Linked DNA regions of Homo sapiens: region 2 is linked to region 1. Evidence: fine-mapped expression QTL. A gene starts in region 1. The other region holds a variant in brackets. All regions are shown on one strand. Distances are from middle to middle. Region 1 holds the start of RWDD3 (RWD domain containing 3). Region 2 overlaps TLCD4 (TLC domain containing 4).

Evidence for each region. PIP is the estimated chance that this variant, and not a neighbour inherited with it, causes the effect.
Region 2: its variant is fine-mapped to the expression of RWDD3 in lymphoblastoid cells (GENCORD, PIP 0.95). The same link has a PIP of 0.9 or more in T cells and iPS cells.

Annotation. Positions count from the first base shown.
Region 1 is chr1:95,233,000-95,235,904 of GRCh38, reverse strand. RWDD3 (RWD domain containing 3) reads right to left here and starts at 1,695. Exons shown (of 4, transcript NM_015485.5): 1 at 1,590-1,695. The coding sequence starts at 1,674. The region is part of intron 7 of TLCD4-RWDD3 (TLCD4-RWDD3 readthrough); the gene reads right to left. RWDD3-DT (RWDD3 divergent transcript) reads left to right here and starts at 1,923. Exons shown (of 4, transcript NR_125949.1): 1 at 1,923-2,205. RefSeq lists silencers at 1,235-1,414, 1,625-1,954.
Region 2 is chr1:95,182,842-95,185,746 of GRCh38, reverse strand. All of the region lies in intron 6 of TLCD4 (TLC domain containing 4), which reads right to left. All of the region lies in intron 6 of TLCD4-RWDD3 (TLCD4-RWDD3 readthrough), which reads right to left. All of the region lies in intron 3 of RWDD3-DT (RWDD3 divergent transcript), which reads left to right. Among named protein-coding and RNA genes, the nearest start is that of RWDD3-DT, 50 kb to the left of the region's middle. The variant AG/G (reference allele first, on the strand shown) is at 1,394.

The DNA.
Region 1 (2,905 bases):
CTTTCTCATACATGGCAGTGTTTTTTCTTTTTTTTTTATTCAATAGAAGCCACATACAGGGACAGTAAGTTTCACCTATCATCAAAAAATAGTCAAAAGAACCTCTCTACACTGTAAGCTCCTAGAGGCCATGGGTAGCGGTGTCTCTGAAACCCTGACAAAGTCTGTAGGCAGCAGGGATTCAATAAATGTGGGCTAAATGACTAATAAAGCCCTCAAGAGCTTGTTTAAAAAAAAGTATCAGAAGGCCAGGCACCTGTGGCTCACGCCTGTAATCCCAGCACCTTGGGAGGCCGAGACGCGCGGATCACGAGGTCAGGAGATTGAGACCAGCCTGGCCAACATGGTGAAACCCCGTCTCTACTAAAAATACAAAAAATTAGCCAGTCATGGTGGCAGGCGCCTGTAGTGCCAGCTACTCGGGAGGCTGAGGCAGGAGAATGGTGTGAACCCAGGAGGTGGAGCTTGCAGTGAGCCGAGATCGCGCCACTGCACTCCAGCCTGGGGGACAGAACAAGACTCTGTCTCAAAAAAAAAAAAAAAAAAAAAAAAAGGCCGGGCGCAGTGGCTCACGCCTGTAATCCCAGCACTTTCGGAGGCCGAGGCGGGCGGACCACGAGGTCCGGAGATCGAGACCATCCTGGCTAACACGGTGAAACCCTGTCTCTACTAAAAAAAAAAATACAAAAAATTAGCCGGGCGTGGTGGTGGGCGCCTGTAGTCCCAGCTACTCGGGAGGCTGAGGCAGGAGAATGGCGTGAACCCGGGAGGCGGAGGTTGCAGTGACCCGAGATCGCGCCACTGCACTCCAGCCTAGGCGACAAAGCAAGACTCCGTCTTAAAAAATAAAAAATAAATAAAATAAAATAAATAAAATTCAGCCAGGCATGGTGGCACGCGCCTGTGATCCCAGCTACTCGGGAGGCGGAGGCTGCAGTGAGTCCAGATGGATCCACTGCACTCCAGCCAGGGCAACAAGAGAGACTCCACCTAAAAAAAAAAAAGTATCAGAAAAGCAATCAACTTGGAAATAGAATGCAGATAAAGTTGAGGTTGAGCACTGGATAAATGAAAAAGTTCAGTCAACAAACATTTACCTACTACCTACCAGGTGCCTGGAGTCATTACCAAACAGACCCTGCCCTCCTGCAACTTAAGACCTACAAATACCCGTGTAGAGTTAGAACCGGGGAGTGCTCTCGGGGGGGCCTAGGGCATAGTGCTTAGGAAGGACACAGAACAACGAGGGGGCGTCAGCACAGGCTTCTTTATAGGGTGAGATCTGAGGGGTGGGAGGCTGGGGGAGGGCCTGGGGGTGCGCACGCAGGGGCCCCCGGCTCCGGGAGCGGGACCGGCGGCAGAGGCCCCAGTGGGCCGCGCCGCTCTCTTAGTGTTTCTGGGGTCGCCTCACACTCCCGCCCGCTGCGACACCACTCCGGCCTCCGGGCGTGTCATTCCATCATTCAACTAACCCGGTCCCCATACGTGGGCCCAGGCGGGGTGCCCAGGCTCCGTGGTGGGGAGGAGACGCAAAGCGAACGCGGGTGGCCCCTGAGGGCGCCCTGTCCCTCCCGCGCGCGGGTAGTCACCTGAGCGGCTCAGCACCTCCCACTCGTGGGGCCTGCAGAAAATCGCGGCCAGGACCGAGAGCTCCTCCTGCACAGGCTCCGCCATGGCTGTGGGCCCCACCGCCTCAGCGCTTCCCCTTCCGCTGCCGCAGCCGCCGCCTCCACCGGCCAGGAGCAGCACTGCCCGCGGCCACCCGGGGGCGCCCCGCGCCTCCGCAACCGGGCGGGACGGGGGCGGGGCGAGACGGAGCTGGGGCGAAGCGAAACGGGACGTGGGCGAGGCGAGTCCGGGCGAGGGTCAGGGCAGACGGGGCGGGCGGGGCCCTTAGAAGTTCCGCCCAGAAGCTCCTGCTCAGTAACTACAGACGCGAAGCTCAGCCTCTCGGTTTGGGAATTTTCTTGGAGGCCGAGGCCCTGCGCCTCTGTCTGCACCCAAGGCGACCGCCCAGCTTACCCCCGGCTCTTCTGAGCACAGGGAGGCCTCCCAGCAAAGCCTGAACCCTCTAAGTTTAGCTGCAGGCTTCGAACCCCGACCGTCCCCGCCGAGCCTTGGGCTGCTGAGGTGGGGATGAACTGGGCGAAAGACACTTGGGAGTTAGGAAGAAACAAACAAGCAGGGAAGTGACCAGGAGACAAGGTGAGACTTTGCCCGGCTCAGGTCTGAACTGAGTGTTGGAGATAACCACAGTTAACAAAATAAACAAAATTATTCGCCCCCGTGGAGCTGTTAGCAACCCTGGTGCCTGGGAAGCCTGGAAGAGGCTCGGGTTAGTAACAACCTCCAGGATGCCCTCCGAACTGGTACTGGCGCCGGGACTCTAGACAAGGTCCAGATTCCCGGGCCCTTCCCCTTACGGGTGCAAAAAGGGAGGGTCAGGACCTGCCAGTCCTGGCTTCAGGATGTTGACTGGACGGACCTGGACTCATGGGAACTGTGCGCCAAAGTCCTGGGAGCAAAGTGTCATAACGCTCCTCGTTTGTCTCTTGCCTTCACAGGAGACAGCCCTGCTGCAAGCGGCCAGTGGGAATCCTTGGCCTTTGGGGGTATGATCCAAGAATGTAAACGCTAGCTTTTCAGTGTTTTCGATTTCGTGATATTCAATGCATACAATACAATGTGACTCTTGAAGCTTAATAATAAAATTATCATTCTTGAGCCCAGCACCTAAATTTTAAAATGTGAGCAATACCAATAGGGTAACAGAATAAGCAATCCATTCTGTTTTGACTATAGTGAACAAGATTACAAGACTTATCTGCAGTTAGGTCTGTCTCTCGGATGTTTGCCTGGTCTTTTTGCTGTTCAAATAACAGTTTAAAATTTGGCAGTCCCCACA
Region 2 (2,905 bases), 50 kb after region 1:
TTTGCATTATATACTATATTCTTATAATAAAGCTAGAGAAAAACGTTATTTTCTAGAGAAAAGAAAATCATAAAGAAAAGAAAATATATGTACTATTAAGTGAAAGTGGATCTTTGTAAAGGTCTTCATTCTCGTCGTCTTCACGTTAACTAGCCTTGAGTAAGAGAAGGAGTTGGACTTGCTGTCGCAAAGGTGGCAGAGGTGGAAGAGGTGACGAAGTTGGAAGGAAAGGCAGGCACACTTAGTGCAAATTTTATTGAAAAAAATAGATGTGTCAGTGGACTCATACAGTTCAAACCCATGTTGTTCGGGAGTCAACTGCATTAGAGTCCATCAACCATGAATTCCTTCCACTCTGACCCCAAGATCTCAAAACTTCTTCTCAGGCACCTTTACCTTTCAACTCAGAGGAGAGTCCTCATCTTCTAGGATTTATTCAATAAACTACCCTGCCTTCCCTTGTTCTACCAAGTTCCCCTTCTATAAATTGATTCTTCTTTTACCAACGTGCTCAATTCCTGCTAATCCAAAAACCTCCCCTCCACTGCTTCTCTTCTTTGCCAGTTTTTTGAAAGGAGAGTCAGACATATTCACAGACATTCTTACTACACTCCCAAACCCAAGACGATATGACTGCAACTCTACAAAAGAAATTAGTCAGTTACATATGTGCACATGTACCCTAAAACTTAAAGTATAATTTAAAAAAAAAGAAAAAAAAAAAGAAATTGGTCACCCATAGCTTCCTCATAACCATAGTGTTAGCTTCTGCCAATTTTTCCATCTAACCAGTGCCTGGTCTTTAAACCAGTTTCTTTCAAAGGAAAGAACCCAAATATTAACTCAAGGTGAAATAATATTTACATAACTGTCCTCCTTACCTCCCTCTTCCATGGCAGAAAGATCACTTATTTTGTTGGAATCCACCTCTTCTTACCTAATTAGAACATTCTTTCATTCTAGCAAATAAAGACTAACAGTTTGTGAAGGTATGTACTGAATCTGAGAGGAAAGAGGGGAAGGGAGGAAAACATGCATGTGGGAAGGAAGGAAAGAAGAACAGCAACACTTTCTTTTACCCACCATTTACTGTTATTACTAAGACAGGCATAAAAGACAGCAAATTGTATGTATTTATTAATACAATCCTCCCTTCACTCCAGAGAGAAAATCCTAACTTTGGTCATTTAGCAATTATTCCTCCTCCTACCCTTCTAAAGGAACTTGAACCTTCCCATTAAGTTTACTGGGAGTTAATTGTGTAGAGGTATCGTACTCACTAAAAATTGTGTAAAAACTAGAAAAAGTGTAAAAACTAGGAATTATTTGCTCTAATTCACATTTACATTTGGAAAGAGGATGGAGGGCTATTTGCAGGCACAGAAAAAAAAAA[AG/G]TGAGAAAAGAGGACAGGGACAAATAATTGATCCTTGATGGCACTGGTTTGTTGAGTTTTAGAGGAGTTGAGAGTCAGAAGTTTGAGAGAGCCTTAGGAAAGCTGTGGGGTCAAGATATTGTGAGTCCAAGAGGAATGAAGAGAATTTTAAGAAGTGCTGTTGTGAGTAACAAACTGGATCTTTGTTGACATCCTTGGAAAAACTCCAATAAGGATTTGGATGCTGTACTGTTTCTGGAACTCTGTGAAGGGACTGGGCTGTAAGCTGACTCTACTTACATCTTAGTTGCAAATGTAATTTCTTCAGGCATGTAAACATTTGTATTTAATAAACATTAACCCTGGAAGGTTAGGAATTTAAGAACTGAATTTTAGACAAGTTTCCCTCCAGCTTCATATTATTTTGGTTCCCCTACTACTCCTAAATTATTCCTTCATTATATCTACTCTTCTTTCTCTGATTCTCCAATCTTGTTTTTTTGTTTTTTTTGTTTTTGTTTTTTATGTTGTTGTTTTTTGAGACAGTCTTGCTCTGTCGCCAGGCTGGAGTGCAGTGGTGCGATCTCGGCTCACTGCAATCTCCGCCTCCCAGATTCAAGCGATTCTCCTGCCTCAGCCTCCTGAGTAGCCGGGACTACGCGCCACCACACCCAGCTAATTCTTTTTTGTACTTTTAGTAGAGACGGGGTTTCACCATGTTGGCCAGAATGGTCTCGATCTCCTCCTGACCTTGTGATCTGCTCGCCTCGGCCTCCCAAAATGCTGGGATTACAGGCGTGAGCCACCACACCTGGCTGATTTTCCAGTCTTAAACATTTAACTCTAATCTTCTAAATATATCTTTTCTCACAGGTTAAAATATCACCTTATTCTGATCATCCCAACATTCCTCTCTCGAGCTCTCACTAAATTTCCACTCAGATGCTCTGTTTGTCCTCTTATCCAATATCTCCGCACTAAATTCGTCACCTTCCCTCTCAGTCTTCCTAATTCTCTGTCACTTTTGATGGGCACATTTCTCTGGGTCCAATATAGGATTTGTCTTAAACTTGTCCGTATTCTCTAATTTTTTATCCGTTCATTGCCAATTTCATTTCATTTCTTCAAAATCTCTATTTTGTCATCTCTCTAGTCCCACAGCTTAATATGGACTCTTATTTACTTTCGGAACTAATAAAATTACACTGTCCATTCACACAACTAAGAACTGGGTAACCTAACCCAAACTTTTGTCTCCAGTGTTACAATCTATCCTACAAATATCAAAAGTTATAACCACTCAGTGCTCTTTCCAGAATGTCTTTCTCCACTATAATCTCACTGTCTACTGGGTCAAGTTCAATCAGCTCTCCCAGACACTCAACATCCTCTACATCTATCCACCCTACCCCTAAGACATACTCTTTGATCCTATACTTTCTCTTTCCCATAGCATGTTTATTTCACTTTTCAAAATCCTATGTTGATTCTTTTCTTCTTGAATGAAGGCCCTTCCCTCTCCATCCACTTCT